Regions from separate parts of the Homo sapiens genome. Here region 1 is linked to region 2. Evidence: fine-mapped expression QTL. Tissue or cell type: whole blood. Region 2 holds a variant in brackets; the other region holds the start of a gene. All regions are shown on one strand. Distances are from middle to middle.

Region 1 (5,114 bases), 110 kb before region 2:
ATTTCAAATTATTTCCATTTATGAAGAAATAACGGAAATATTTTATTAATTGAAATATTTTATTAATTAAAATATGATATATCATATACTCCCTTGTTACTTTAAGGTTCTACAAATCTGTTTGTTTATTTTCAAAGGATCAAGATCAAAGCTAAGTTTGTCTATGTCACAAAACTACACTAGATCAAAGAAACGCAAACGTACCTTTTTTTGTCAGTTCTTGACCTTGTTTACAATCCTGTTCACACATGCTGCATCCTGCCCCCAGGCAGTGAAACCCTGGAGTGCAGTCACACTCTGCATTGCTGGTGGAGGAACACTCCTTCCTGGTCCTGAAAACACCTACAAAGTCCCCCCAGCCCCCAACATTTTATTACACTTGACCTCCAAATCCAGGAAGCGAATTTATGCTCTGCAGTAAAAATCATGCTCACTCTACTTATAGTGTTCCCAGTAATTTTAAAGTTTACTTTTAAATCTCCATAAAGACATTTTTACATTTAGGTAAGTAAAAACTTCTCTCTTGTCAAATGAATGTTTCCTCTAATATTTAGAAAGCTCAGTCCACAAATAATTGCTGTCACTGGATATTATTGTCCTAGACCTGCTGGTTGGCAGAAGAATCAGTCTTTGACACTTGAGATTTTCAAAAGAGAGCAGTTAGTAAATGGGAAAGAAAAGCTTATCTTCCCAACTATCTTCTAGAAGAAGAAAATATCTTTGAACTCATACCTTTACACTGCCTGCATATGTCACAGGTCCTTTGTCCACCTGCGCTGGAGAAACTATTTGGAGGACAGGGACTGCAAATCTGATTCCTGTTATTATCACAGAATGTACCTAAGAAAGGCAGACAATAGTGGTACACGTTTGACAATGGGCAATCGTCACCCAAGGCATTCCGAAGTTTACAATAAAATAAGATTATAAAAGAATGATGAGTTTTCTAGATGCCACAGTGGTGGACATTAGTTTGATTGACTTCCTAAAACAATACATTTGCAAGATTATTCTTTGTGTAATCACAGAATTAGAAATAACAAAATACAGGCCAGGTGCAGTGGCTCACGCCTGTAATCACAGCACTTTGGGAGGCCGAAGCGGGCAGATCACCTGAGGTCAGCAGTTCAAGACCAGCTTGGCCAACATGGTGAAATCCTGTCTCTACTAAAAATACAAAAATTAGCCAGGCGCAGTGGTGCACACCTGTAATCCCAGCTACTCGGGAGGCTGAGGCAGGAGAATTGCTTGAACCTGGGAGGCCAAGGTTGCAGTGAGCTGAGATCGTGCCACTGCACTCCAGCCTGGGCGACAGAGTGAGACTGTGTCTCAAAAAAAAAAAAAAAAACATACACACACAAAAAAAACAAAAAAACCAGATATTGTAACAAATAAATCAACAGAAAGAAAATACTTTATCTATTGAATAAAACAAAATGATTATCTTGATTGATGTAGGAGATGAATATGACTGGATCCAGGAGGACATCAATGTCCTACACTAAAATTTAAATGCGACTGACCGTCCCCACTCTGTTAAGCCCTTTACTACGCGCTTACTCGCTGCTATGCCCCCAGTCGGAGCACAAAGCCCTACACACAAAACTAACATTTATTGAAGTCTTGCCTTGTGCCATGCACTGTTCTAAGCCCTTCATTTGATCCTCCCAGCCATCCTATAAAACAGGTTCTCTTATTATCCCCAGATGAGAAAGTCAAGGCACAAGAGGTTGAATGACTTTGCTGTGTTCACACAGCTAGGTTGTAGCATCCAATAAACATTTGTAAATGAATGAATTTTCATTTTCCTTTCCTTAAAAGGGAGCTCGTTAGCCCTGACTACTAGACTAACTGAACCATACTTCCAACAGAGCAGATCAAATGCACATGATAACTGGGTACTCACCAGCTGGGCAGTTACTACAAGGATCCTGCAATGATCTTGTCCTCTCAAAGTTGAGGACCAGCAACAGAGTGGCTACTATGTTGTAACAGCTGTTTCCCATGATGAAATCTGGCACAGGTATGATACTAGCAAAGCTGATTCCAAGAGAATTTTAATCAAATTAGCTGGTCTCACAAATGTCACTCTGCAAAAGATAAACATTTCCAAGGAAAGGTGGTTTCTCCTTTCAAAATTATCTATATTGCAATCATTACTTATACAATTCTATAAGAGGATAACTCAGGGTTTTTCAGGAACAATTAATGATGCAATATTACGGAAAAGTAGCAGATTCATAGAAACCACTAGGACAAGGCAGGCGTGATTAAACACACAGCTTTGTGCCGGTTTGCCAAAGTTTGAGGGTGCATTTTCCATCATGTTCTGCCAAAATGCAGAAATAACAATAGCAAGAACTTTTGGGGACTTTCATAGGTACTTTGCAGTACCAACCAGCAATAATGCCAATTACTTATTGCCCCTGAAATAAACTCCTTACAAAGAGAATCTGTCAGGGGCATCAGACAATTCAGTTCAAGAAGAAGCTATCACATAATCACTCTTCCCCCTTTAGCTGAACACCTAACTACTAACATGTGGAAAGACCTCCCTGTTCAACTCACTAACACATTTTCTTAAACAGAGACATGTTTTGAGATGTGAAGTTTGTATGGTAACAAAACTAAGGAGTGAAAAACTCTTCAGGCTAAGTTATTGATGTTTATTTAAAGGGCTATTGAAGAGAAGTTATTACATATTAGGAGAAAAAGTCTAGAAATGGGCAAAGGGAGCAAAAGTTCCAATCTCACCCCTTCTCAGTGCCCCCACCCACTCCCCCAGATGGACAGACCTTGAGATCTCAGGGCTGCCGGAGAACTTTCCACTCCTTGGTCTTCAGGCTTCTGCAGCTCGAGAGGACTTCAGGTCAAACACAGGAGTGCGGTGACTCAGCCAGGGGCGGGGTCTCATGGGAAATTCCCACCACAGCTCTGTGACAGCCCTATGAAATCATTCATTTCATATCTGCTGACCCCGAAATCCCCTAGAGCCCCCGTCCCTGCCTGATAATGGCACTTCAAATTGCTTCTTGGAAGCAGCTCTCTACTGTCAGGATGTGTCACAGATGACGCTGGGAAAACGATTTTGTCCCTTAAGATAGCTCTCCAGGACAAAGCATTTAGCATGTCCTTAAAACACTGGATTTGAGATTAGAGGAATGAAACCAAATTCAAAACAGTGATCAGCATTTTGCCATATGCGGTCCCCTAACTCCATAGTCACTGTAATGCAATAGCTGCCATTACTTGAGCACAGCCGATGTGCCAGGCATCAGAGATGCACTGCGGTGAATACACACTATCCTCGAAAGAACCCTAGAACTTGGTATGACTGCTGTTGTTACTGGGAGAACACTATGCAAATGAGGAAAGTGGGGCTGCAAGTGGAATTAGAGCGTCAACAGGACAGGGAGCAGGCAGGGTTGGAACCCAGGTCGGCCTGGTCCCTTATCGTGCTCCTCCGGGCATGGGTGACAGAGGGAGGAAGGAGGGAGAAATGGAGGGAAATGGAAACAGGGGAAGCACAGCAGTCACACGGCAAGTCAATGACCAGGACGTGGTTCGGTGAAGCTGAGAGCTAGGAGGGATTTTTAGAAAACCATGATTTCAATTTTTCTTTAAAAAAAAAAAAAGGAGAAAGAGACCAGGCGCGGTGACTCATGCCTGTAATCCCAACACTTGGGAGGCCGAGGTGGATGGATCATCTGAGGTCAGGAGTTTGACACTAGACTGTCCAACATGGCAAAAACCTGTCTCTACTAAAATTACAAAAATTAGCAGGGAATGGTGGCGGTGGACCCCTTTAATCCCAGCTACTGAGGCTGAGGCAGGAGAATCGCTTGAACCTGGGAAGTAGAGGTTGCAGTGAGCCGAGATTGCGCCACTGCACTCCAGCCACAAAAAAAAAAAAAAAAAGAAGAAGAAGAAGAAGAAGAGGAAGAGGAGGGCAGAGAAAGCAGAAGGAAAAAAAAGTACAGTAAGAGGAGAGGAGGAGTATAAGGAGAAAGAAGAGGGAGAAGAGGAGGAGGAGGAGAAAAATAAAGAGAAAAGGAGGAGGAGGAGGAAGAAGAAAAGAACAGAAAGAGAAGGGGAAGAGGAAGAGGAGAAGGAAGAATGAGGAGGAGAAAGAATGAGACGGAAGAATGAGGAGAAGGAAGAGTGAGGAGGAGAAAGAATGAGAAGGAAGAATGAGGAGAAGGAAAAAGGGGTGTTTCTGGAGGAGGAGGAGGAGGAGGAGGAGGAGGAGGAGGCGGCTGCTCCAGGCTGTAGATGAACCTGCCCATCATTGAGCAGCTGGAGAACCTCAGGAAAACCAGGGGAACTGTGGCTGGGGCAGGCGTGGGCTGGGGAAGGACATCGAGAGTAGCTTGGGCCGTCCTCCTGCCCCGCGGTTCCCAGCACGAGCTCTCCCGACAGAAGAGGAAAACGCGGCGCGACTCGGTTGGGGGACAGCGCTGAGATGCGGACAGATGCGGACGTTCTGCCGCCGCCTGCAGGCAGAGGGACTCGGAGATCAGGCCGCAGAAGCAGAAGAAGGCAGACGGGAAGGAGGAGGAAGGAAAGGAGCCTTGTGGCTTCGTGTCCGACCCTCCCGCCCTTGGCCCGCGTGCCTGGAGCCAGCCCCACCGCGCCCGCGTTTCCTCCCGCGGGACTTCCCTTGGCCCTGGGTCTGCAGCGGGTCCTGCCGAGCTTCCTTCCCTCAGGCAGCCTCTCTCTCCCTGGCCACTCTCGGGGGTGAGGGGGGTTACCGGTTCCCAGTGATTTTTATTCCCTTTGCTCTCTCACGCCTCATGTTCCCCATTCTCCTGCCTCAGTTGTGTAATCTTGAGCAAATTTCTCAACCTCCCTAACTCTGTTTTTGCAAGCACATCTTACAGGTGCAGTGACACCATACATCTTCCTCGTGAGTGAGGATTAAATGAGACGATGAGCATGAAATACTTAGCTCAATGCTTGGCACATAGTTCTCAAGAAAGTAGGAATTGCTATGATCAGACTTACTGGTTTGAAATGTTCCTTCCCTGCCTCCCACACTGACCATCAGTAGAGCCACCACAGGGCAAGTCATGACAGAAAAGGAGAAAAACGCATGAGCTGCCTGCAAAATGTGT
Region 2 (5,203 bases):
GTAGCTGGGACCATAGGCGCATGCCACCACGCTTGGCTAATTTTTGAATTTTTTTTTTTTTTTGAGATGGAGTCTCGCTCTGTCGCCCAGGCTGGAGTGCAGTGGCACGATCTTGGCTCATTGCAACCTCTGCCTTCCAGGTTCAAGCAATTCTCCTGTCTCAGCCTCTGGTGTAGCTGGGACTACAGGCACTGGCCACCAGGCCCGGCTAATTTTTGTATTTTTAATAGAGATGTGGTTTCACCATATTGGTCAGGCTGGTCTCAAACTCCTGACCTCAGGTGATCCACCCACCTCAGCCTCCCAAAGTGCTGGGATTTCAGGCGTGAGCCACCGCACCCGGCCAATTTTTTATTTTTTTGTACAGACGAGGTCTCACTATGTTGCCCAGGCTGATCTTGAACTCCTGAGCTCAAGCAATCCTCCTGCCTCAGCCTCCCAAAGTGCTGGGATTACAGGCATGAGCCACGGCACCCAGCCCAAAAAAGTGCTTTAAGTAGTTTCATGGAGGCATAATTTACATACCATAAGATCCACTTGTTTTAAATCCACAATTCAAAGATTTTTAAATAAACTTGTAAAGTTGTGCAAATATCATCACAATCCAGTTGGAGAACATATCACCCCAAAAGATCCCCCATATCTGCATACATAATGAATTTTTTTAAGTTTCATTGAGGTATCTTCTTGTGGTTTTTATAAAAGATATTTTCTGGCTGGGCACTGTAATTCTAGCACTTTGGGAGGCCGAGATGGGTAGATCACCTGAGGTCAGGAGTTCGAGACCAGCCTGGCCAACATGGTGAAATCCCGTCTCTACCAAAACCACAAAAAATTAGCCAGGCGTGGTGTCATGCACCTGTAGTCCCAGCTACTCGGGAGGCTGAGGCAGGAGAATTGCTTGAACCCAGAAGGCAGAGGTTGCAGCGAGCTGAGATTGCACCACTGCACTCCAGCCTGGGTAACAGAACAGAGTGGGACTCCGTCTCAAAAAAAAAAAAAAAAAAAAAAAAAAGGTATTTTCTGCCTTGGGACCTTATTTGCTGGTCTCTTTGCCTCCAGCTTCTCATGGCTTACTTTGGCCCTTCAGTAATCTGCTCAAAACTTCCTTCTTCAAAGAAGCCTCTTCTGACCACCCTGTCTAAAATGGAAACTCTCATCTGCTTACACTTCATCCTGATCTTATGTCTGTTTGTGTGGTGTTGCTTTCCCCAGAAAGGACCATGAGAGCAGGAACTTTGTCTTGCATCTGATCATTACATCCCCAGGGCCTAGAACGGTGCCTGGGGTACAGAGGTGCCCAATAAATATGTGTTTAGTCAATGCAAGAATGAAGATAATTGGAGCATCGTCAATTTCCTTATCACTTTATTGCCAGTCTTTGCTTCTTTTAATTCACAATGTTTCTTTGAGTGAATGTCTTAGGGCTGCTTTAAGAATGTAAATTGGGTGGTTATTTTGACTTTTATGTCTGCTTTTCAATATTTCTACTTTTAATTTATTTCACTTACCTAAACCTCGATCTTCCTTCCAGGAAAGATAAATTTGGTTCATTCTAATCCTCTTTCTCCTCCAAATTGTGGTTTAGTAGTCTAACCTTCTTTTTGAAATTCTACACGTTTTATAGTTTTTACACTCTGTTTACTGATTGATAACTTGCTATTACTGGTTTTGCTTTTTATTGAGTTAATCTACTTATCTGTCTGCTTTCACATACTTTAAGCTGCCTATTTTATTCTGATTGTGATCAAAGCTGTCACTAGTGTTTATTGATTTTTTTCTGTTCTTTCTCTCTATTTTTACATTTCTACAACATGAAATTTGTACTCACTAGTCTTTCTTTTTTTTTTTTCTTGGCAGAGTCTCACTCTGTTGCTCAGGCTGGAGTGCAGTGACGTGATCTCAGCTTCTTGTGCTCAAGTGATCCTCCCACCTTAGCCTCCAAAGTAGCTGTGACCACTGGCGTGCCACCATACCCACCTAATTTTTGTATTTTTGGTAGAGATGACATTTTGCATTTTGCCATGTTGCCCAGGCTGGTCTCAAACTCCTGAGCTCTAGCAATTCACCTGCCTCAGCCTCCCAAAATGCTGGAACTACAGGTGTGAGCCATCGTGCCTGGCTTGTAGTCACTAATCTTTACGGATTATTTCACCTTTCTAGTTCTGAAAATCGTCTCCATTCACCTTTCAGAAATGTGAGCTTGGTACACTGTACCTGTGGGACTAGTAACCTTTCTCTTAGCTCTGAGGTCAAATCACTTTTATTTGGATATGTTTTCTGGGTTTTCTTTCTAAGTTTTTGTTTGAAAACTTAAGAAATGGATGTATGAATGTTTAGAGCCTTGGTTTCTGTTGTTTTCTTTTGTTCTTGTTTTTAAGAGTGTTCCTGAGAAAATTCCTATGCAGCCTAATAATGATACTAGGATTTCATTGAGAAAATTTTAATTTTAATTTTAGAAAAGTTACTTTTTCCGGTCGGATGCAGTGGCTTATGCCTGTAATCCCAGCACTTTGGGAGGCCGAGGCCGGTGGATCACTTGAGATCAGGAATTCCAGACCAGCCTGGCCAACATGGCGAAATCCCTTCTCTACTAAAAATACAAAAATCAGCTGGGTGTAGTGGTGGGTGCCTGTAGTCCCAGCTACTCAGGAGGCTGAGGCAGGAGAATCGCTTGAACCCAGGAGGTGGAGGTTGCAATCAGCCAAGATCACCCCATTGCATTCCAGCCTAGTTTCCACATTGCTGATCTTTCCTGATTACCCTGGTACCTTTGTTTAGCACAAATGGGTTTCTTGGATTCATTCTCTAAGTCTTGAATATCTCTTGCCTTGTTATAATCTATTTGTTTAATTTACAGGAGAGGGATTTGCTGTATGATAAGCACAGTTAATCCTTTGCTCTTGGCATCTATTTTGCCATTTTCAGCTTTTGTT[G/A]GGGTACAATTAAAAATTATTTACAGGTTTAGCAGAGTGTTTTTTCTTTTCTTTTTTCTTTTCTTTTCTTTTTTTTTTTTTTTTTTTGAGATGGAGTCTCGCTCTGTTGCCCAGGCTGGAGTGCAGTGGCATGATCTTGGCTCACTGCAACCTGTGCCTCCCAGACTGAAGAGATTCTCATGCTTCACCCTCCGGAGTAGCTGGGACTATAGGCTCCCGCTACCACACCTGGCTAATTTTTATATTTTTAGTAGAGATGGGGTTTCACCATGTTGCCAGGCTGGTCTCGAACTCCGGACCTCAAGTGATCCTGCCTCGGCCTCCCAAAGTGCTGGGATTACAGGTGTGAGCCACCGTGCCCGACCTCTTTTTCTTTTCTTCCTGTTTTTTTTTTTTTTTTTTTTTTGAGACAGGGTCTCCCTGTCACCCAGGCTGGAGTGCAGTGGTGTCATCATGGGTCACTGCAGCCTTGACCTCCTGAGCTCAGGCAATCCTCCCACCTCAGCCTCCCTAGTAGCTGGGACTACAGGCATGCACCACCATGCCCAGCTAATTAAAAAAAAATTTTTTTAGAGACAAGGTCTCACTGTGTTTTCCAGGCTGGTCTCGAACTCCTGGGCTCAAGTGATCTACCCCCCTCAACCTCCCAAAGTGCTGGGATTATAGGCGTGCACCACCACACCTGGCCTGGTGTTTTTTTTTCTATATTGAAAGGCATTGCTTTTGAAGTTATCTATTTTCTTTCATATCCTCAAGTAATCTGACATAACCCATTTGTGATGACTCATGAACCCAGAGAAGATGTGGCAATTTTACTGTTCTATGTATCTTCTGTTCTTTCTGGCTTGCTCTTACACTTGTAATGCATTTATGCATTCCACAAATACGTATTAAAAGCCTATTCCATTCCAGGTGCTTTTCTGGGTACTCAGCTCCATCAATGAGCAAATGAAGTTCCTGCTCTTAGGGCACTTACATTCTAGAGACGGATAATGTATCTGTTTATATACAAGACAGTAAGTAGACAAATGATTAAGGGAAAAAGGTGCAGTAAAGTTAGAAGACAGAGTGGGGCTAAATGGCCTATTTTATTTTATTTTTTTGAGATGGAGTCTCACTCTCTCACCCAGACTGGAGTGCAGTGGCACGATCTCGGCTCACTGCAGCATTTGCATCCCGGGTTCCAGTTATTCTCCTGCCTCAGCCTCCCAGGTAGCTGGGATTACAGGCACGCACCACCATGCCTGGCTAATTTTTGTATTTTTAGTAGAGATGGAGTTTCACCATGTTGGCTAGGCTGGTCTTGAACTCCTGGACCTCAGGTGATCCTTCTGCCTTGGCCTCCCAACAGTGCTGGGATTACAGGCATGAGGCGCTGTGCCTGGCCTGTAAAGGGGCTATTTTAGAGGGATGGTCACTGATATGGGGCTATTGAGCAGAGATCTGAATGAGGGTGAACAATGAGAAGACACAGGGGAAGAGTGTTTGAGGCCATGCAAAGGGCCTGAGGCAAGAGAGTGCTTCACTTGTTCAAGTGGAGCAAGGCTGGCCTTAGAGTGAGGGCCAGTGCTAGGAGATGCATTCAGAAAGGTGGACCCTGTCGAGCCACTGTCCCCTTGATTGTGATTTGCCAGCCACCTGGCCTTGTCACATTCCTGGAACACACCTGTCCTTGCTGTCTTGTGCCTTTTCTCTTTCTGTTCTCTAGAGTGCCAGTGTTCTTTCCGTGGCTGTTCTCATGGGTGCCTTCTCATTGTGCTTTTTACAGCAGTATATTTGTTTACATCTTTTTTTTTTTGGAAGGAAAATCTGTATTATTTTAATTATTTTTATATACTGAAAACTCAACAGTGTACATTTAATCCAGCTTGGTGGCAAGTTCTTTAGCCTTTGCCTTTTTGAGATTGGTAATGCGGGCCATAGACTTGGAAGCCAGGACATTGCCTCCCCAGTGACAGCAGATCTCGTCGTGTCTGTCTTTGTAATTGGTCCTGATAGCTTCCACCAGCTTAGCCAAAGCTCCTTTGTCTTCCGAGTTAACCCATGCGAAGGCAACAGTGGTGCAGGTCTTCCTGTAGACTAGACGTCCCAGTCTTGCCTTCCCCTTGATAGTGCAGTAAGGGACCCCCATTTTACGACACAGGGCAGGCAGGAAGACAACAGCTCGATGGGATCCATGTCGTGTGCAGTGATCACCAGCTGAGACTTTTTGTTCTCCACCAAGGTGGTGACGTTGTTAACTCCTGCTTGAAGGACATTGAAGGACT

What was found. PIP is the estimated chance that this variant, and not a neighbour inherited with it, causes the effect.
Region 1: TNFRSF9 starts here. The variant in region 2 is fine-mapped to the expression of TNFRSF9 in whole blood (TOPMed, PIP above 0.99).

What each region holds. Positions count from the first base shown.
Region 1 is chr1:7,937,989-7,943,102 of GRCh38, forward strand. TNFRSF9 (TNF receptor superfamily member 9) reads right to left here and starts at 2,851. Exons shown (of 8, transcript NM_001561.6): 1 at 2,796-2,851; 2 at 1,907-2,090; 3 at 733-840; 4 at 205-342. The coding sequence starts at 2,006. RefSeq lists a silencer at 4,555-4,694.
Region 2 is chr1:8,052,446-8,057,648 of GRCh38, forward strand. The region is part of intron 2 of ERRFI1-DT (ERRFI1 divergent transcript); the gene reads left to right. It also overlaps the pseudogene RPL7AP18. Among named protein-coding and RNA genes, the nearest start is that of ERRFI1-DT, 29 kb to the left of the region's middle. The variant G/A (reference allele first, on the strand shown) is at 2,937.